2 separate regions of the Homo sapiens genome follow, and region 2 is linked to region 1. The links come from fine-mapping of genetic effects on gene expression. A gene starts in region 1. The other region holds a variant in brackets. All regions are shown on one strand. Distances are from middle to middle.

Region 1 (11,025 bases):
AAGCCCTGATCCCTTTACACCTTTCATGTCACCCTTTGTGAGAGTCTCAGTCTCTTCCTGATATGATCATATCCATAAACTAGCTCTTAGTGGGACAGAGGAAAACATCTAGGGAATTTTGGCCTTCTGAAGTCTCAGTATGATGACTGAGAGGCTCTGGTAGCCAGTAGGAAAGAAATGCAAATGACTTCAATGTCAAGGTTGACTCCTAAGCATATCTGGGTTCCAGTACAAGCTGGCCTCTTCCAGGATCATTACCTAAGACAGTTCCCAAGCACACCTAAACTCTCTTGTCTCATTATTTTCTTTCTATCCTTTAAAGTACTTAACTCTCCTCTCCCTCCCCAAGAAAACCCACTACACAAACACACCAAGTAATACTGTTTCTGTGCCCCTTCCCTTTCCTTTAACTTCAAATAGCCACTCTATCTTCCAAAAGGGTAGAAGGGAAAATACCAAGAAAGGGTGAGATCTGCACTTTGTCTCCTCTACCCTTTGAACAATCAGTTGGAGAGGTGGGCAGTCAGTTCTCACCATTGGGTCAGTGGGTCACACACACTCTCAGGTCAGTGCTAGGCAGCACCCCTCCATACCACTAGCCGAACCAAGGCCAACGAGATGGGCATTTAGGAGACCACAAAGGGAGACAAGGTAGGGCACGATGTCAGGGACAACTGGTGATCTGTTGGGGATGGCAGGCTCTGCTGTTGCGGTGGTAACAAGTCACTGTCCTGTGGAAAGTAGATAATAATGGGTTTCATCACCACTTAATAGCTGGGTGGTGTATATATACAGGCACACGTATTTATCAATACACTTTTTTTTTTTGAGACAGAGTTTCGCTCTTGTCGCCCAGGCTGGAGTGCAATGGCGCGATCTTGGCTCACTGCAACCTCCGCCTCCTGGGTTCAAGTAATTCTCATGCCTCAGCCTCCCAAGTAGCTGGAATTACAGGTGCCTGCTGCCACGCCCAGCTAATTTTAATATTTTCAGTAGAGATGGGGTTTCACCACATTGGCCAGGCTGGTCTCGAACTCCCGACTTCAGGTGACCTACCGGCCTCGGCCTCCCAAATTGCTGGGAATACAGGCGTGAGCCATTGCACCTGGCTATTAATACACTTTTATTATACATACAGATACTTGCATATAAAAAGACATGCTTGCGTGCATATACATGCACACTTGCACATGCAGTTCTTTATAGATAATGAAACACAAAAGCACTATATGCAAGATACTGCTGTTCTACTTAAACTGGAGAGCTGGGATTAGAGCAAGATCCTGCTCTAGCTCATAATGTTACAACTCCTAAAGCCAAAAGTGATGGTGGCAGGACAAGATGCTTATGTTTACTCTGTCAGTTAATTCTTCAGAGTACCAACTCACACCAGAGTTAAGATTCAGAATCGGATTATTTCTGGACTCTTTATTCTTAGTTATTTCTCCATATTAGCCAGTATCTCTCTTTAAACATCAGTATTACTAGCTATTATACGGCAACAATAGCTAACTTAAAAAGTCCTCAACGGCCAGATCACCTGAGGTCAGGAGTTCAAGACCAGCCTGACCAATGGGGTGAAACCCCGTCTCTACCAAAAATACAAACTTAGCTGGGTGTGGTGGCGTGCGCTTACGATCCCAGCTACTCAGGAGGCTGAGGCAGGAGAATCGCTTGAATCCGGGAGGCGGAGATTGCAGTGAGCCTAGATCACGCCACTGCACTCCAGCCTGGACAGTAAGAGCAAAAACTCCATCTCAAAATAAAAAGTCCTCAACAACACTGAACATCTTTTGGCAGTTATGGTCTCAGTTGTCATTGCCAAAATAATGCCCTAAAGTCATCTTGGAACCTGCTTCCCAAAGAAAAATGCAATAATTATCCCAAAAATTGCTTAGAAAAACTTTTACTTAACCCAGAGCCCTTTCATACACAATTCCCTGCTCGCTTCTAATCCCACAGACTCCTAATCCTATACCAGCAACTTTTAGCTCCATTAAAACCTCCACATATAGCAGAAAAACAAAACAAAACAAAAAACTCATCTGTGAAATTATGAAGGCTTTAATGGCTGAAGATGGCAAATCTACCCTAAAAGCAGGCTAAAAAAGCTTTCTGTTGCTCTCTAGACCAGCAAGTCACTGGCTTTGCACACATCGCAGCTGAAGCTACTCCAACCTCAAACAGAGGTGTTCTTGGTCTCTAACACAGTTCTTCTTCTTCTTCTTTTTTTGTTTTCTGACAGAGTTTCGCTGTGTCGCCCAGGCTGGAGTGCAATGGTGCGATCTCGGCTCACTGCAACCTCTGCCTCCCGGGTTCAAGCAATTCTCCTGTCTCAGCCTCCCACGTAGCTGGGATTATAGGCGCCCGCCACCATGCCCAGCTAATTTTTGTATTTTTAGTAGAGACGGGGTTTCACCAGGTTGGCCAGGCTGGTCTCGAACTCCTGACCTCAGGTGATCCACCCGCCTCGGCCTCCCAAAGTGTTGGGATTACAGATGTGAGCCACTGTGCCTGGCAGGTCTCTAATACAGTTCTACTGAATGTCAGGTTTCCAGATTAGTGATTCTCTGACTGGGGTTGGTGGACCTACAGCATCAGTATCATCTAGGAACTTGTTAGAAATGCAAATTCTCAGACTCCTCCTAAGACCTACTGAATTAGAAACTCCAGAAATGGCCAGGCACTGAGGCTCATGCCTGTAATCCTAGCACTTTGTGAGGCCCAGGTGGGCAGGACACCTGAGGTCAGGAGTTCGAGACCAGCATGGCCAACATGGTGAAACTCCTTCTCCACTAAAATAAAAACATTAGCAAGGCATGGTGGTGCACGCCTGTAATCCCAGCTACTCAGGAGGCTGAGGCAGGAGAATCACTTGACCTACGGAGGCAGAGGTTGCAGTGAGCCAAGACTGCGCCATTGCACTCCAGCCTGGGGGGCAACAGCAAAACTCTGTCTCAAAAAAAAAAAAAAAAAAAGAAAAAGAAAAAAAGAAATTCCAGAAATTGGACCCAGTAATCTGTGTTTTAACACACGCTCCAAGTTGTTCTGATGCATAAAATTTGAGAACCACTGTTCTAGTTCTAGATCCTTGTGTGTTCTAAGGACCTGTGGTTCATTCCTTAGATACCAACTTAAGTCTGGTAACTAAGCCAGGATGGGGACAAAAGACACCATGCCAGAGCAGAGCCAGCATAGGAGTCTTCCAGCTCATAGTGTTGCCTGATCCTTCAGAAACAACATGCAAACGGAAAGTATAACTAAAGTTCTTAGAGATGGAATGACCCGATTACTGAGATTTGTTTAAAATACTACCCTGGCACACACATAAAAAAAGGAGGGAGGATAACAGATGAAATAAATACAGCAAATAGCAAAATGTTGATTACTGGTGAAGCTATGTGACGTACATGATGGTTTTCTGGTAATCCCTACCTCCCTACTTTTGTGTAAAGTTGAAAAGTTTCAAAATAAAAAGTTTAAAAAAAAAATCAGAAGCTACTCTAATGGGCTGTCCTCAAAGTCAAGTCTAAATGTTAACAGGAAGATTAACCAACACTCCACAATTGCCTCATTACTGTTCTTCAAACTCATCAAGCATATTCCCACTATAGGGCCTTCATCTTCCCACCATATTCCCAAGCATATTCCCGCCATAGAGCCTTTGTCCCTGCTGTTCCCCTTTCTTGGAATGCTTTCCACCCAGATATCCACATGGCTTGTTCCTTCACTCTTCCAGATCTCTGCTCAAAGGCCACCTTGACCATCCTATTTATTAAAACAGAAACAACTCAACACCCACACACTAGCACTCTCTATCTCCCTTCCCAGCTTTATTTTTTTCCACTTACCATGTTCTAACATATAAAATGTTTATCAGAATGTAACCTCTGGTGGCAGAGGCTTTGACTGCTTTCAGTCTACATTCTTAGTCCCTTAACACATTTCTTGAATGAGAGAATAAATGAATGAACCCTCTGCTGGATACTTAAGTCAAATGGGAGATATATACAATAACCTGCATGTTTCTACACATAGACAAAAATCACACAAAAAAATGATTTTAAAAAGCAAAACTTCACCTTCAAGAGCAGCTGAGATCCAGAATGTGAAGATCTTGGGGTGAGGTTCGTGAGATTTGAAAATAAACAGTCAAGTGCTGATCTGGATGATCACAGAGGAATAAAGAGGGAGGCACTAAATGTCCAGCCTGGGTTGCCCTGGGGTGAGGGGTAGGATGACGGCAGCGTTAGGCCAGAAGTGCCAACTTTTCACGGTCTTTGTTGCTGCAGAAGTCAAGAAAAATTTAGCCTCTTTCCAAGGGCTGTTGCTGCTTGGTTTCTGTTGCTATCACAAGGAGAAAAAGGTATTTCAGAGGGAGTTTTTCTTGTTCAAGCAAGAGACAGTTCAGAGATTACCGGCTTTTTCAAACCAGGCTGCTTTAGTGAAAGGGACTTGCTTCCTCTACTCTCAATGCCCTTTCCTCTGGAGAGATGGAAAGTGGATTTAAAAGGTGAAGAGTTGGAAAAGGAAGGTGGTGGGTTATGGAATTCACAGGATCACAAACACTTTTTAAAAAATTAGCCGGAAACGTGGCCTAATTCAAAGCTTTCATGTTACACACAGAATACTTAGACCTACAGAGGTCGACCAATTTGCTTAAGGTTAGGAGTACAGAAGGACTGGGATGTAAAGACATTGGACAGGTCCTAATTACATCTAATCTTCATGTGATGTGGTTATAATTAATTGAGTTGTTAATGAAGTAAGCAAGAAAGACCTATCTGATTTATCTAAATGAGGTAAAGAATGGGCCCTTTCAAAAGAAGTTGGGCCAAAAATAGACTATATGATGAGTGTCCAGAGAAGGTGTTAAAACTCAGCGGCTAATATAGAACGCTTTATGAGTTTCCACGAGAATAAGTCAAATGTAAATGAGCCTCAAGTCTGGATCACAAAGGTCTTTCCCTAGGTCCATGGGCGCTTCTCTAGGTGTGACAACTTCACGTCTAGTCAAAGCAGCTTCAGAGCTCAATGTTTAAATTGTGGGTTGGGCTCCCGGCTTTGTGGTCCTGGAGGAGGTTACTCCACTCCATCCCGTGTGCTCCCTTCTCAGGAGTAGGCCACTAAACAAAGACTACTAGGAAGAATCACTGAGGGGCGACTCCCGCAGGTTAGCGCTATCTCGGGCACCCCGCAGGGAGAGAGGACACGGCTGCCCCGCGAAAACACTCTCTGGCACCCGTGCTTCCAGGACAGGCCCTGAGGCCTCTCCCGGGGAAGCAGTTACACCTGTTCTCCGGGGCTCCCCTGAAGACCCCAAAAACACCCAACACCTGCCTCCCCAGGAAAGACGCTCTGGGCCCGATCTATGCCGCCCGGCCGCCGGGCCTGAGTGAAGCCTGTCCAGCCTAGGAGGGGCCCTCAGAACCTCCCGGTCCAAGCCTCTCACTTCGTCCACCCCTGCGGAGACGGGGCGAGCCCCGCACCCTTCCCGTGGCCCGGCCGCACCGCCCTGTGCCCGTGGTGGCGGCCACACAGGCCAGCCTGGCGAGTACTCACGGCGACCCCGGGCCGCGCGCGGCCGCAGCCGACGGGACGAGCGGCCCGGGACGCCCCGCGGGGGCGGAGCGGCAGGCCAAGGGGCGGGGGCCGGGCCTGGCGGGCGAGGTCGCGCACCCCACGCCTCGTCGTTCCGTCACGGGCGCGCTCAGCCACTCTGCGCACGCTCGCGCGGTGACACGATGGCACGTGGCCCGCTCCTGACCAACAGCCTGACGGCCTGCTCCTGGGCGCGCCTCAGCAGCCGACGCCAGCCTTGAGACGCCTGCGCGGCGGTCGCTAGTCGGGAAAGGGTGCGGAGTGGGGGGTGGCGCCTGCGCCGTGGGTAGGGGAGGCAGTGGAGAAGGAAGAGGGACTCTGGGGGAGTGCGGGGAGCCTTCCAAAGGAGAATACTTGCATTTAGCGCCCCGAGTGGTTGGGAGGAACAAGCAGGAAGGGCAACCCAGGTTGCCTGTAGGCCGGGAGGGAGTCCCCTCGCCGGAGGTTGGGGCCGGCAGGTAGAGACTGAGGGAAGTCCTGAGGCCTTGCTGACTGCAGGATTCTCTGGTTCGACAATGGAAGTCGAACACCTCGGGCTTTTAAAAATTCTGGCATTTAACTCATTTGTTCCCCGGTAGCTGCAGCGTGATGGAGAGCACCCTGGCCTTCTAGTCAATCTGGGTCTGAAGCTTGGGTTCGGCACTTATTGATGGTGCAGCCTTAAGCGATGACTTTCACTTTGTGAATCTGATTTCTCCTCTTTGAGGTGGAGACAGTAATATGTGTTTCACGGAGCCGTTGTGGTGAGGATGAACTGAGATAGTGTTAGGTTGAACCGTAGGAAATTGCTATTTTTGCAGTTTATAAACAGTCAGATACCTTCAATTTCATACGATTCCAACTAATCCATGTAAAGTAACCAGCAGAGTACTTGGGACTAGGAAGTAGTTCATACATGGAAGCTGTAATTGTGGTTATTGTGGTTATTAACCCTAGACATGGCCAGATCTCCTTCATCCTTATTAGTCTTGGGGCTTCCACGTGACCCTCTTTTCCATCAACACTAATGGGAAAAGGCTTATCTTAGACCTACTCTGTTTCCTCACTCCCTCTTTGTAGCTGGACACAGTACACACAAAGAAGGCTTTGGCCCTGAATGATATAAACACGTCATGTCTATCCCTCCTAAGCTGGCCTCAGAAGTTTCCCAGTTAACTTTTTGTTGTTGGTTGATTTACATTTGCACATTCTCAGCCTCTCCTTTCTAACTCCTTCCCCTTTTGATGTCCCCCTCTGCTCACCTTGCCACTCAGCCTGGGCCACAACACCGTCTCGGTGTGAGTTTGTTACATCTACTGCTTATAGTAACTGAAAAAAGTGAGGGATCAATATAACCTCGGTTTCAGAGTGCGGAAGTTCAGAGTGGTAGGGGAAGGAGTCAGGCCTGCTCTCTAAAACAACTCACCATCAAGGGCCCCGTAATAGCTTTTGAGAACCAAGTATGTATGGGAGTGTTTGAACATAAGCACTGTGCCCATGAGTGACAAGTCCAACTCCAGTATTCAATAACCTTTAGGATTCCCCCTTTCCAGCATACCACCACTAGCTCTTCTATTCATCATGAATCTCAGCCACCTCATAGTTTACCAGTATCTTCCAGGCTTCACCTCTTTTCCTACCCAGTCCACATCCTTGGTCAGTCATTTTAATCACATCTTTGTTAATATGCTTGCACTTACTCTGTAAAAATCACACTCCTGGGTCATGCCAGCTATCTACCTTCTCTACTCTCCCATCCTAAACCAGGATAAAGGAAGTCATCCAATCCTGCACACTTAAGCTTGTGAGTGGACACCATTTAGGTTAGTCTAGCCCATGAACCCTATTCTGTGGGAATTATCGTTTCCACACCCACACTATGGATCCACAGGCCCCAGGGCCATGTTCGTCTTGTGTGACCTCTAGCACTTTAGCTGCAGTTTATTGAACTGTGAGTGGATTCCTGGTCTAAGCTGTGTTAAACAGATGTTCTCCTGAAAATCTGGGATTAGAGCTGACAGATTATGATTCTAACTGGACTGGTTTCTTAAGCAAAAGAGACATAGACTTAGGAGCTATGGTACATCTACCTCCCACCTACTATGATGAATGAGAAAAGGAAAAAGACCATCTGGGGACACAGAATGAAGCATGGAGAGGCAGAGACCAGAAATGGTGAGACTACTCTCTGCTTTCTGGCAGCTTCCCAGGCACCCCTCCCTTCCTTCCTTCTTTTTTTTTTTTTTTTTTTTTTGAGACAGGGTCTCACTGTGTTACTCAGGCTGGAGTACAGTGGTGTGATCATAGCTTACTGCAGCCTCCAAGGCTTAAGCATGCACTAACATATCTGGCTAATTAATTTTTTTTTGCAGAGATGGGGTCTCCCTATGTTGCCCAGGCTGATCTTGAACTCCTGGGCCCAAGCAGTCCTCCATCTTGTCCTCCCAAAGTACTGGGATTACAGGTGTGAGCCACTATACCCTGCCCAAGGCACTTTCTGAGGCCCTCTGATCTTGAGGGACTAGGAGTCAGTTTTTATCTAGAATAAATGGCTTAAGCTAACTTAATGTGCACTCAGTACAGAGCTCCTACAAATTCATTGTCTCCTCAGCAGAGTCCTCAGTGTACCCAGCAACCCTTCCCATGTCAGCCTCTCCCACCATCCCCCATTCTGCTTCACAGAAAAAATAAAGGCTCTGGGTGCCAGGTACTTGGGTGGCTGAGGCAGGAGGATCTCTGGAGCCCAGGAGTTCAAGGCTACAGTGAACTGTGGTTATGCCACTGCACTCCAGCCTCAGCAATGGAGCGAGACTCCCCATCTCTTTAAAAATAAATAAATAAATAAAAGGCCACGGGGGAACTGCCTCAATTTTCTGTCCCCTCCAAACATTTGAATCTCTCCCATCCTTTCTGTTTCAGAAGTGGAGAGGGCTCTCTTCAAATACAAAGTTAGTCCTTTCACTGTGATCTGTATTTCATTCCTTTTTGCCTCCTTGGGAAATTTGCTCCTTACCTCTCTCTTTCATTTATATTCAACTTTTTCCTCTCCCCTACTCGTTGATCTCAGTATATAAGCTTGATCAACTAGCCCAACCGTAAAAAGAAAATCCAATTTGAATCCTATATGCCATGCTACTGATTTTTCTTGCCTTTAACCAAACTTCTAGGAGTAGCCTATACTCCCCCTCTCCACTTTCTTGTCTTCAGTTGTTCCTTAAATCTGGTGTCATCTGACCTCTCCCCAAAATTTCTACTGAAAATACTTTCACCAAAGTGACACATGACTTACAAATGGACAAATCCATTGGGAATTTTCAGGCTTCATTTATATGACCACACAGTGTCATTTGGCATTGTCAATCATCTTGCCCCTGCAGTTGACTGCATGGTGTCATTTGGCATTGTCAATCATCTTGCCCCTGCAGTTGACTGCATGGTGTCATTTGGCATTGTCAATCATCTTGCCCCTGCAGTTGACTGCATGGTGTCATTTGGCATTGTCAATCATCTTGCCCCTGCAGTTGACTGCATGGTGTCATTTGGCATTGTCAATCATCTTGCCCCTGCAGTTGACTGCATGGTGTCATTTGGCATTGTTGATCATCCTGCCCCTGCAACCCTTTCCTCTGTTGGCTCTTATGGGCTACACTCTTCCAGTTTCTTGCTACACCTCATATGACTCCTTCACAGTATCCTTATTATACTCCCTTTCCTTCATTCCCTACTTAAGTAGAAAAGCAGTTCAGCCCACATCCATTTCTCCTATTACTCTTCCCTGTGGCCTCCATGGCCACTTGAAGGAGATCTTGATAATTTGGGGTTGCCCAGAAACAGAATCTCCTTCTTATGTTACAAGTTTTAGAAGTAAGCAGAGCCTATCTTTCATGACAGACACTAAAAAGGTTGAATCTTTGCTTTCCCAGCTCTCTAGCTAAGACAGAGGCATGTGACCTTGGCCTGGCCAAGCATCTTCCAGAAATGTAGTTTCTGGAGTGACTCAGAGAAATAGAATCATAGAGAATTCATGCCAGTGGCAATGGTGACAGGAGAGCAGGGTCAGCTTTACCCCATGCCCAGGGACTTTCATGGTGTGGGTACTGGTAGTGGTGACATCCCATGTCCAATAATGATGACAGCAGCAGTGGTCTTGTGGAGCTGGTTCTGGCATCTGAATTTGGCCTGTGCTGTGGTGGACTGGCCTCTCATTGTTCCTGCCTATTTTCCAAGCTTGGGTCTTTTGCCTGGCAATCCCGTGACCCACCTAGTGCCCTTTCAACAAAAGTCTCATTTAAATCCACCTGAGTGACACACAGTTATAGACTGGAACTCCCAAATCTATATTTCCATCCTGTACTTCTTCTTCTTTTTTTTTTTTTTTTGACGGAGTCTCGCTCTGTTGCCAGGCTGGAGTGTGGTGGCGTGATCTTGGCTCACTGCAACCTCTGCCTCCCAGGTTCAAGCGATTCTCCTGCCTCAGCCTCCTGAGTAGCTGAGACTACAGATGCACGCCACCACGCCTGGCTAATTTTTGTATTTTTAGTAGAGACGGGGTTTCACCACATTGGCCAGGATGGTCTCAATCTCTTGACCTTGTGATCCACCCACCTCGGCCTCCCAAAGTGCTGGGATTACAGGCGTGAGCCACCGCGCCTGGCTTCCATCCTGTACTTCTTGAGTTTCAAGTTAACTTTGGTCAAGTTGTCTTTTGGACAGCTCCACTTGGATGTCACATAGGCAAACATCTTCTCACTGTATTTCTTTCATGTTCCTAACTTAGTAAATCTCACCTATGACTTATTCAGACTGAACCCTGAGAAGAAAGCATCTTAGACTTCTCCCATCCTTATTTAAATGGAACCAATTTTACCTCATAAACTCTAAATTTTACATCTTAATACATCTTCTTCTTCTTTTTCTTTCTTTCCAAACTCTGGCCTCCTGCCCTCTAGCTGCCTAAAAGCACAGAGACTCAGAAGGCAGAACAGGCCACACGCCTGGGTCTGGCTTTTCCCAAGGGATATCTTAGGTGCTGAGCAGAAAATGCAAGAAACTAAAAAGCCTGTGGAATGAGCCTCAGCCTCCTGGGGAGTAGTAGACAGGGTCTCAATATGTGGCCCAGGCTGGTCTCAAACTCCTGGCCTAAAGTTATCCTCCCACCTCGACCTCCCAAAGTGCTAGGATTACAAGTGCGAGCAAATTAATACATCTTAAATCAATCCCTCCTTTATATTCCTATTCCTCCCTACCAGAACTATCGCATTCGCCTCCTAATAGACTCCTTATCCAGTATCTACTCCTGCAATCTATTCTCCACTTAGCTGCTTAGGGGATCTTTCTAAAACTCAAATCTGATCATGTCACTCCTCTATTAAAACCCTTCAATAGGCTGGGCCCAGTGGCTCATGCTTGTAATCCTAACACTTTGGGAGGCCAAGGCGGGTGGAT
Region 2 (11,025 bases), 25 kb before region 1:
AAAATTCTTCTTTCCCATAATCAGTCTGGATAGGGTCACAGCTTCCATCTTTACATTTTCATCTAAACTCAGCCTCTGCTTTTATACTCATGACTTCAGCTACATATGACTCCAGACGTGTGTTCACTTTAGAACATACCTGACTCCTTTAAATGATCTCAAATCACTCCCCAACCCATTCTCACCCCACTGTTTCCCTGTCCAGCTCTGGAGCCTAAATTAGCCCCAGGGAAAGGTCCTGCCTCATTAGAATAGTTCCAATACCTGGGGGATGGTATTCATCCTGTTGTATCTCTGGACCAGCTCATCCTTGGAGGGCATCCTGTGCTGTCCTTTTCCCATTCCTGTCACAGAACAATACACCCACTTCATTTATCAAAAATTTACGAAAGTGCCTACTATGTCCCAGCACTGAGCTAGATGCTCATCAAAACAGCAGAGAATAAAACAAAGAAGATTATTTTCCCCCACAGAATTTAGTCTGCTGGAAATTACAAGCAAGAACAAGTAATTAACAACACAGCATGGTAAGGGGTTGTGATGCAGATTATAGAGCATGGTGTGAGCCTAGAGGAGGGCAACTAGCCTAGCCTAAGAGTTTAAAGAAGTCATGTGGTGACAGCTAGACTGAGAACTGCAGGATTAGGAAGAGTTAATTAAATAAACAGCGGGGAAGTGTCTGGGAAGAAGTAATAGGATACAGAAGGCCTGAAGGAAAGATAAGGTAGTGTGTGTTAGTTGCATAGAGAATAGTGAATTGCAGAGGAGTGGTGAGAAATGATGTAGAAGAGGCAAGCTAGGATCAGATCAAGCCGGCTTTGCAGGCCATGTTAAGGCAACTAAAGTCTATCCTCAGAACATTAGGGAACCACTGCAGGGTTCTAAGATAGGGGAGCAGCACATGAAATCAGCCAGGAATGAGGGGCCCAGGAGAGTGGGACATCAATACCTTGGTGTCAAGTGCCTGGATGAGTAAAATGAATGGAAAGGAAGCAAGCAGAACAAGTCAGATTTGCTCTAGTCTCAAAGTTACATTAAAAACCTGACCAGTCATTCAAGAGAAAAGCATCAGCAGTTAAGTGATGAATAATTTTGTACAGGAAATCACAATGGCAACTAACTTGAAGAATCCTACTTCAAACAGTCTTCCCAGGCTTGAGAAAGAAGTGCCCATTCCTTCTAGTTTCCACATTATCTAAATCCATAAACTCTCTACCTTCCTTACCCGTTTATAACATTTATAGACTCAACTTGGACTTTTCTTATTTAGATATGAAAATGTGCTTGTGTGCTCCCACTCCTCACTCTTTTTGGTTTGAGGATAGGACGTTAAGTCTCTGTACTCAGCTTTATCATAGGCCCAATCTTACCACAGTTAGGGATAAAAATGTCTACCCATGTGTGGACACACGTGCCTGTGTGTGTCCACCAGGGAGAGAGATGAAGATGGAGATGATGCTATCATTATAGGTCATAAGCACTCTCACCACTCTACCCTGGAACTTTCTATTACTATTAACTCCACTCTGATCAGTTCTTGGTTTTCTCATAGCCATGGTGTAGAAATAGACTGATAGCTGTTGAACTGACATTCTTCACTGCTCAGGCTGTCAATTCATCATGCATTTACACTCAAGTCTCGTGACAGATTTAGGTAGGGCCTGAACAAAACTCAGGACACCAAGAGCCTCAAGGCTTGAATTGCCCATTTCTTCCTTTTACAGGACAGGTACTCATAACCCCTGTTTTCACCTTCCCCATTAGCCTTAACTAGGTTCAGCTCTCCACCCAAACATCATGACCTTCTCTCAAACTGGGTATGTCAGTGACAAAAAGTAAAATTCCCATTCAGGTTATACTCCAGAGGAGGCACATAAAAGATAATAAAGAACAATCTGATTTCTCTGGCAGGTCTTAGAGATGGCCCTTATGATATAACCCAAATCTTGTCCCAACTCAATCCTGTTGTACACTATCCTTTCCACACTGATCCAATGATTGTCCATTTCCTGAGCCCAGAACCTGAGATCATGGTGGCTAGAATAATCCCTAGATGTTCTGTGTCCAGAGTATGCACTTATCAGAAGTCCCTAAACAAGACTAAACAAACAGATGGAGTATATCACCTCCTTTTTCACTGTCCCCTATTTCAACCTGAACTTTATAGCCAAGTCACTGGAACTAGATATATGAACGCTATTTACACCAACCCTCACTTCCAGAGGGCACTCAATGCCATTAGGCTAAAGATAGTGTGAGAAAGAAAAAACAGAAAACCAGAGCAGAATAGCGTAGAAGAAAACATACAAGACAGTTGGTCAAATGCTGGAGTAACTACAGTAAGTGGAACATTTGCACACATTTCCCCCAACATCCCATTATACATACTCACATATCTATAGGGCCCTCAGAGACCCGTCATTCAAGCAAGGCCTACTCTGTCAGTCTAATATAGTGTATTAGTCCATTTTCACACTACTGATAAAGACATACCCAAGACTTGGTAATTTATACAGGAAAAAGGGTTTAATGGACTTACAGTTCCACATGGCTGGGGAGGCCTCACAATCATGGTGGAAGGCAAGGAGGAGCAAGTCACATCTTAAATGGATGGTGGCAGCCAAAGAGAGAGCTTGTGCAGCAAAACTCCCCCTTATAGAACTATCAGATCTCATGAGACTTATTCACTATGACAAGAACAGCACTGGAAAAACCTGCCCCCATGGGCCAGGCACAGTGGCTCACACCTATAATCCCAGCACTTTGGGAGGCCAAGGCAGGCGGATCACGAGGTCAGGAGATCGAGACCATCCTGGCTAACATGGTGAAACCCCACTTCTACTAAAAATACAAAAAAATCAGCTGGGCGTGGTGGTGGGCGCCTGTAGTCCCAGCTACTCGGGAGGCTGAGGCAGGAGAATGGCGTGAACCCGGGAGGTAGAGCTTGCAGTGAGCTGAGACCGCGCCACTGCACTCCAGCCTGGGCGATAGAGTGAGACTCTGTCTCAAAAAACAAAACAAAACAAAACAAAAACAAATAAAAACCTGCCCCCATGATTCAGTTACCTCCCGCTGGGTCCCTTCCACAACACATGGGAATTCAAGATGAGATCTGGGTGGAGACACAGCCAAACCGTATCATATAGTGATAACAACAATGGCCTAGAAATTAGGAGACCTGGATTGCAGCCCTATCTCTGCTACTCATAGCTGTGTGACCATAAGAAAATCATTTAACTTTTCTGTATATCAGCTTTCTTATCTGTAAAGTAATAAGGGATTAAATTAGATGATCTCTAACTCCAATAGTAAAATTCAACTGCATTTTGTATCTATAATCAATTACCCTTTGAGAGAGGGAGATGAAAGGTGTCTATGATATCTTTATGTAATCGGTTAAGTGATGAAGAAAGACGAGAGGTCAACAGAGATTTCTGGCTTCATCTGGTAACTAAAGGTATTTAGGCACTTGGTAGTAAACAAAGGCCAGGGGGAGAAAAGAGAAAGAAAGGGAGGGCATAGGGAGAAAACAGAAAAGAAGAATCTCAGTGGGCACCAAGAACCATGAGAATCTCACTACTCGGAAAGACAAAAGAACTTAATCAGAGGGATGCTTAGGCTGAGACAAAGATAAAAAGTGAAGAATCCAGACAAATCAAAAAGACTATTCCAACCCTAACCCCACTTTGGATGCCAGGCACACAGAGTAAGATTCACTCATATATTCAATAAATATGTGTTGGTCACTTGCCCTGTGTGGATTAATCATAATCTTTGTTTCATAACACATTATTGTTTTGTTTTGTTTTTTTGAGACGGAGTCTCACTCTGTTGCCCAGGCTAGAGTGCAGTGGCACGATCTCAGCTCACTGCAACCTCCGCCTCCCAGGTTCAAGTGATTCTTCTGCCTCAGCCTCCCGAGTAGCTGGGACTACAGATGTTTGCCACCATGTCCAGCTAATTTTTCTATTTTTAGTAGAGACAGGGTTTCACCATGTTGGTCAGGCTGGTCTCGAACTCCCAACCTCGTGATCCACCTGCTTTGGCCTCCCAAAGTGCTGGGATTACAGGTGTGAGCCACCATGCCCAGCCTCATTATTATTTTTTAATAAGACAATGAATACCCAGAGACCCAATCAAAGAACTAAATTCTAAACCTAAAACATTACCAGTGACTTACATCTAACTATATGCCTCCCTTTGGAGGTAATCACTATCCTGCAATTTGAGTTATTATTCTTTTGTTTTTTCTTTTTCCTTTAGTTTTCACACACACACACATAATACACATATATATGCCTAAACAATGTTTAATTTTGTTTGCTTTTGAACAATATAAAAAAGGCATCACAGTCTCACTCTGTCTTCTGGGACTTCCCTCTTCTTATTGAACATATTTATTATTATTTTTTTTTTTGAGATGGAGTCTTGCTCTGTTACCCAGGCTGGAGTGCAATGGCGCAGTCTCACCTCACTGCAACCTCCGCCTCCCAGATTCAAACGATTCTCCTGCCTCAGCCTCCTGAGTATCTAGGATTACAGGCATGTGCCACCACGCCTGGCTAATTTTCTTTGTATTTTTAGTAGAGATGGGGCTTCTCCCTGTTGGTCAGGCTGGTCTCAAACTCCCAACCTCAGGTGATCTCCCTGCCTTGGCCTCCCAAAGTGCTGGGATTACAGGCGTGAGCCACTGCGCCCAGCCAAAAAGTACACTTTTATTACTAATCTTTTGTGGTTATATGTGCTGCAAATGTCTTCTGTCGGTTTGTAGCCTGTCTCTTCACTTTCTTTAGGGTGTCTTCTGAAGAATATAAGTTTTAAATTTTTTTTCTTTTTTGAGACAGGGTCTCGCTCTACTGCCCAAGCTGGAGTGCAGTGACATGATCATGGCTCACTGCAGCTTCAACCTCCTGGGCTCAGTGATCTTCCTGCCTCAGCCTCCTGACCAGCTAGGACTTACAGGCACGCACTGCCAGACCTGGTTATTTTTATTTTTTTGCAGAGATGGGGTATTGCCATGTTGCCCAGGCTGGTCTTGAACTCCTGAGCTCAAGCAATCATCCCACGTCAGCCTCCCAGTGTTGGGATTACAGGTGTGAGCCACTGTGCCCAGCCAGAAGTTTTTAATTTTAATATAGTCAAATTTATCAATCTTTTATGATTTGTAATTCCATTTTTTCTATTCTCTGGAAGACTTTAGATAAAACTAAAATAATTTGTTCCTTGAAAGTTTAAGATTAATTTGTAAAACCATCTGGGCTTGGTGAGGTTTATTTTGTGTGTGGAAATTTTTACACAATTTCTATTTCTTTTATAGTATTATGATTATACAGGCTATTTCTTGTCAGATTTGTTATCTTTTTCTAGAAATTTATCCATTTTATCAAAGTTTTTAAATTATTAGCATAGTGTAGGTAACTCTCTTATTACTTTTTATTTTTTTTTTAGGCAGAGTCTTGCTTTGTTGTCTAGGCTGGAGTGCACTGGTTTGATCTTGGCTGACTGCAGCCTCTGCCTCCTGGGTTCAAGCGATTCTCCTGCCTCAGCCTCTCGAGTAGGTGCATGCCACCATGCCTGGCTAATTTTTCTATTTTTAGTAGAGACAGGATTTCACCATGTTGGCCAGGCTGGTCTTGAACTCCTGACCTCAAGTGATCTGCCCACATCAGCCTCCCAAAGTACTGGGATTACA[C/G]GTGTGAGCCACCGTGCCCCGCCTTATTACCTTTTTAAATTCTGCTTATCTATAGTTGTACTGCTTTTTTTGGTCATTATATTATTTAATTGTGTCCTTTTTCTCTTAATCTAACCAGGGTTTATCTGTTCTGTTAGTTCTTTGAAATCATCTTTGGACTTTTTTGGTACTATCTATTGTACCTATTTTTATTTCACAGGTGTTAGTTCTTACCTGTATTATCTCCTTTTTTCTATTTTGTTTGGTTTATTCTGTTGTTAGAGATGTTTTTAGGCCTCTGATTCTGGCACTTTCTTTTTTCTTTTTTTTTTTGAGACGGGGTCTCCCTCTGTCAACCAGGCTGGTGTGCAGTGGTGCAATCTCAGCTCACTGCAACCTCCGCCTCCCGGGTTCAAGCGATTCTCCTGCCTCAGCCTCCTGATGGCACTACATTTTCTGATCTTTGTAACAGTTACAAATTACTACAGGATATCAAGTAATAATCTATTAAGAATCTAGCACAATCCCCTTCATGTAGTGAACATGCAACTACATGGTGACTATACCTTGTACAGAGACTACATCAAACAAGCACAAAAGCAGACTGAAAATGAACTAAGACATAAGCCAGGAAGACTGAGAGAACTCTAAATCAGATTTCCTTTTCTGAGCTTGACTCATCTCCTGATTAGAATCTGGACCTCATCTTTAGAATAAAATGCTTTATCTTGCATTCAATGTGACTAACATAATAGTGTAAGATTATAGACAGTTTAAATTTTAAAAGATGGTTGAGAGAGAGAACAGTGTCTCTAGAAATATAAGCCAATGGAAAGGACGCAAGCCTTCAGGCCTTCAGATGTTTTCACATGTAAACTTACATGTACAAGTATACACAAACACAATCTATAATTGCCAACACCAAACGTGTTCTACAAAAAGCCTTGTTATGTCCCTGTTATTCCTCCACCCATTCCCAGGGCCAAGCCCCTGCTATGAATAAAACCATCATTTTTAACAATAACTGGCCTCACCTTGTAAAGAATCTAAATTTCTAATAAGAAAATGTAGAGAGAGAGAGAATATGTATCCATGATCGGGGAGAGAGCTGACACAGACCAAGTATCCATAATGAGGGAGGAACAGACAGCACAAATCATGTATTCACAAATGGAGGCAATGTAAATAGAGTCAAGGTGGCCACAGAATATTTCTTACCTGAGTATCCAAAGGAAATACTGGAGATGGGGCTCAGGTAGATGCCTTTGCCATAGGCTGCTCCATGCAGCTTGCAGGGAAACACCAGGATGAGTAATATGAGCCTGGGCCCTCCCATGGCTATTTATTAGGCAGCAGCAAGGCTTATCCAGCCCTCTGTCCCTCCTTCTACCTTCTCATTCAAGTAACCCTAAGCACCTATTCTCGGAAAGCCAACTGGCTGAAAAGTGGATGCAGGTTAACCTGCTTGCCTATGAAGTGCTACATACTGACACATTCGAGAGTGGGAAATGGTAGAACCACTGAGTCAGTCCCTCAGCATTCATTTTCCTGTCTCCAGGCCTTGGTACATATGCAGATTCCAAAAAAGAGGAACTACAGAACGGGTAGCCAGAAGGAGGGCCAATACACACTCCCTGGAGTCTCTCAGGGCATAGAAAAAGTCTCCCATATCTACTCCTTGAATGAATAGCCACATAAATTGAAAAGCTCTAATAGATTAATTCATCACAGTGGCTACAATCAGCAATTCCATATTCCTGCTTACAGGTACATTCCCATTCCCCAAACCACCAAAAAAACGCAGACTGAGATCAAATACACAACAGCCACGTTCTCTATTCATACAGTTCTAACTTCCTCTCTAGGGAACTCCACAAGACAGGTTAGGCTTGAGGACACTGAGGCAAAAACAGCTTACTCTAGAGCAGCCTTCCACAAAACTGAGTAGGGAAGGGAGCGGTTAGAAATAAAGGAGAAAGGGGCACAGCCTCACCTGCAGTTTGGTGTAGGATGCATTGACCAGCCCATTGCGCAGGATCGAATGCCAGTTCTCAATGTGGGACCCACTGTAAGGCAGGGTAGAATACATGTCTCCTTATGATATGAGGTTCCCAGGAACACTCCCAAGACTGCCATTCCCACCCATTCTCACCCACACAGGACATGAAGATGGACAGGTACACCTAGTGATGGACATGCACATGGATACAGTCACAGGCATGCAAGATGTGTGTGTGTGGTTAAACTCTACGTCTCTATTTCCAGTCCCATCCTCTCTTCGGTGCTTCAGCTACTCCCATCCTAAATCCTCAACTGCTGGTTCAGTATTTTTATTTGCCCATTATCCTGACATTTCAAATTCAATAAATTCATCTGAAAATCAACAAATTTATCACTGACCCCAAATATGGCTTCCAGTTCTGACTTCATGTTCTATTTTAAGAAAAGGGTACTACCACTCCCTATAAGTTCTCTTTAATACCTCTCTTTCTCTTTCCCTCCTCTCAAAATTAGGCATAAATTGTGGATTTTTCCATCAAAGTAGCTTTCAGATCTGTTCTCTCCAATCTATTTCTTCAGCCACATCTTTTCACATGTAAATGTCATTTTTCCTCAACTACATCATAAATAGTTTGAGAATAAAGACCACATTATATGTACCTTTTTGTCCTCTATAGCACCTACCACAATAGCATTTAGTAAGTATCTGCTGACTGGTTGATGGACACATGTAACACAAACTCATATCTCAAGGGCATCCTTCTTGCTCATCCCCGCCCCCTCACCACCCCCACTGCCCAGCCCCCAGCCTCCTCACTGGAAGGCAAAGGTGCTGCCATAGAGCTTCTTGGCGGTCCGGAACCGAGCCTCCTTGGCAGGAGGGCTGCTCAGCAGGAGGAACTGGTGTGAGGTGTGCATGAACTTCAGCTGCTGCCCAGGGTGGGGGTGGAATCAGGAAAACAGAGCAGAAATCGAGATCAGGGAGGGAAGGGTTGGGGATAGGGGAAAAAATCAGGCTTGCATTAACCCCACACAAGGGAAATATGCTAAGGCCCAAAGACTAAGTTGATGGACAGAGCAATGTAGGCAGATCTAGGACCAATATGGTTAGCTGGCTTCCAGCCCCTCCCTGCCCCTCACCAGAAATTTAAAGCATTTAGAGGGAGAATGGTCACTTACCCTGCTGAGAGGTAGTTTGACAATGTGTGACCTGTTGCTAGAGATGATCCTGGGAAGAAACAGAAAAAAATAAAAAGGATAGAATAATTATGTATTTAAGCTATCCTTTCTGAACAAGCCAGTCTTCCTCTGCCTTTGGGAGAATAAACAAGGATTCCTGGGCTGTCCAAATTGTGTGAAATGTCAAGGTCACTATCTGGATATTCCTGTGGGTGATAGTGCTTATGAATAAAAAGGTAAAAAGGAAGGTAGTGACCAGACACAAGCTAATTATTGGGGAGTTAAACAATGGATGAAAAAAAAAAAGGGGTGGGAGGAGTGCTGCTACAAGTAGGGAGTAAAAAGGGTAGAACAAAAGGAAGAGCACAGAGGTCACCTACAAAAAAAGAAAAGAAAAAACAGCAAGAGGTCTGAATTAGAATGGTGACAACTTATACCTGGGATTTAGACTCAGATTCAGACCTGGGCTCAGAAGCCATCCTTCCTTAGCTTAAGAGAAAACATGAAAGCTCTCAGGAATGGGGAGAAACGGAGAGAAAGTTACTGTCTAGGCTGGAAAAAGAAACAGAAGAAACTAGAATGAACTTCCTTAGGAGTCAAGGACAGACTAAGCTCTATACAGGCTGAACACAGAAGATAGAAGAGAACAGACATAAAACACTGAGGGCTCAGCAAGAGAGCACTATCTCCCATGTGGATACAGTTTGCTGTTGTCTTTGTTTTTTGTGCCTCATCTATGTACCTGTGATGCCACCTCAGATGGTCTATGCCTGGTTATTCCTCAGGCTAAGAGGGAGAAAGCTGTTGCACTGAGGAAGTACTGAAGGCTGACTAGGAAGAGGGAGGCAAACTAAAAAGGGAAAGCTATGTCAGGAAAACAATAGAAATTGAGATCAGGAATGGATGGCAGCAGGGACAGTCAAAATCTTGGCTAGGAGAAGAGCACAGCAATAGTGCCTCAAGGCTCTGGACATTCTATATCATCAAGGAGGCCCAGAGACAGGGCAAGGGGATAGCAGGAGGAGACAGACGTCTCTGGATGCAAAGAAAACTTAGTTGAAATTAACAGTGTTAATTTCTACATGCAAAGGACACAAAAACCTATTGGTGGTGACTATAGTTAGTAACAATGTGTAATATTCTTCAAAATCACTGTGGTAGATTTTAAGTGTTCTCGCCACAAAAAATACATACGCGAGATAATGCATATGCTTATTAGCTCTACTGAACCATTCTGCAATGTACACATATTTCAAAACATCATGTTGTACACAATACATGTAATTTTTTTTTTTTGAGACGGAGTTTCGCTCTTGTTGCCCAGGCTGGAGTGTAATGGAGCAATCTCAGCTCACGGCAACCTCCGCCTCCCGGGTTCAAGCGATTCTCCTGCCTCAGCCTCCCGAGTAGCTGGGACTACAGGCATGGGCCACCATGCCCAGCTGATTTTGTATTTTTAGTAGAAATGGGGTTTCTCCATGTTGGTCAGGCTGGTCTCGAACTCCCAACCTCAGGTGATCCGCCCGCCTCGGCCTCCCAAAGTATTGGGATCACAGGTGTGAGCCACTGCACCCGGCCCTGTAATTTCTATCTGTCAATTTAAAAAATAAATTAACAAACCAAAAAAGAAAACAAACAACAAAACCTATTGCGAAACATGGAACACCTAAAGAGAACTTGAAAAATCATGTCAGCTGCACATCGTGGCTCACAGCTGTAATCCCAGCACTTTGGGAAGCCAATCAGGAGGATCACTTGAGCCCAAGAGTTCAAGACTGGCTTGGGCAACATAGGGAGACTCCATCTCTATTAAAAAAAAAAAATTAGCTGGGTGTGGTGGCACATGCCTGTGGTCCCAGCTACTGGGGAGGCTGAGGTGGATCACTTGAGCACTGAAGGGCAAGGCTACAGTGAACCATGATCGCACCACTGCACTCTAGCCGGGGCAACAGAGTGAGACCCTATCTCAAAAAAAAAAAAAAAGAAACAATTAAAATAAGATTAAAAATAATTTTTTTGAAAGAAAAATCATGTCAGAATTTGTGGGCGTTTTGTAGGATGTGTTATTTTCAAGGCAAGGTATGCCAACAAACTCCAAGAAAAAGCACCCATTACTGCCTATAACCTTGGGAAGGATGTTGAAACCACCACTAAAAGAAGGTACAGGTTCCATG

What was found. PIP is the estimated chance that this variant, and not a neighbour inherited with it, causes the effect.
Region 2: its variant is fine-mapped to the expression of PARP6 in tibial nerve (GTEx, PIP 0.96).

What each region holds. Positions count from the first base shown.
Region 1 is chr15:72,266,941-72,277,965 of GRCh38, forward strand. PARP6 (poly(ADP-ribose) polymerase family member 6) reads right to left here and starts at 5,614. Exons shown (of 24, transcript NM_001323532.2): 1 at 5,453-5,614; 2 at 4,083-4,347; 3 at 535-731. The coding sequence starts at 537. RefSeq lists a silencer at 5,357-5,776 and enhancers at 5,917-5,966, 6,027-6,116.
Region 2 is chr15:72,242,356-72,253,380 of GRCh38, forward strand. PARP6 (poly(ADP-ribose) polymerase family member 6) reads right to left here. Exons shown (of 24, transcript NM_001323532.2): 17 at 8,852-8,900; 18 at 8,490-8,599; 19 at 7,665-7,737; 20 at 6,890-6,959; 21 at 265-344. Among named protein-coding and RNA genes, the nearest start is that of PKM, 17 kb to the left of the region's middle. The variant C/G (reference allele first, on the strand shown) is at 5,693.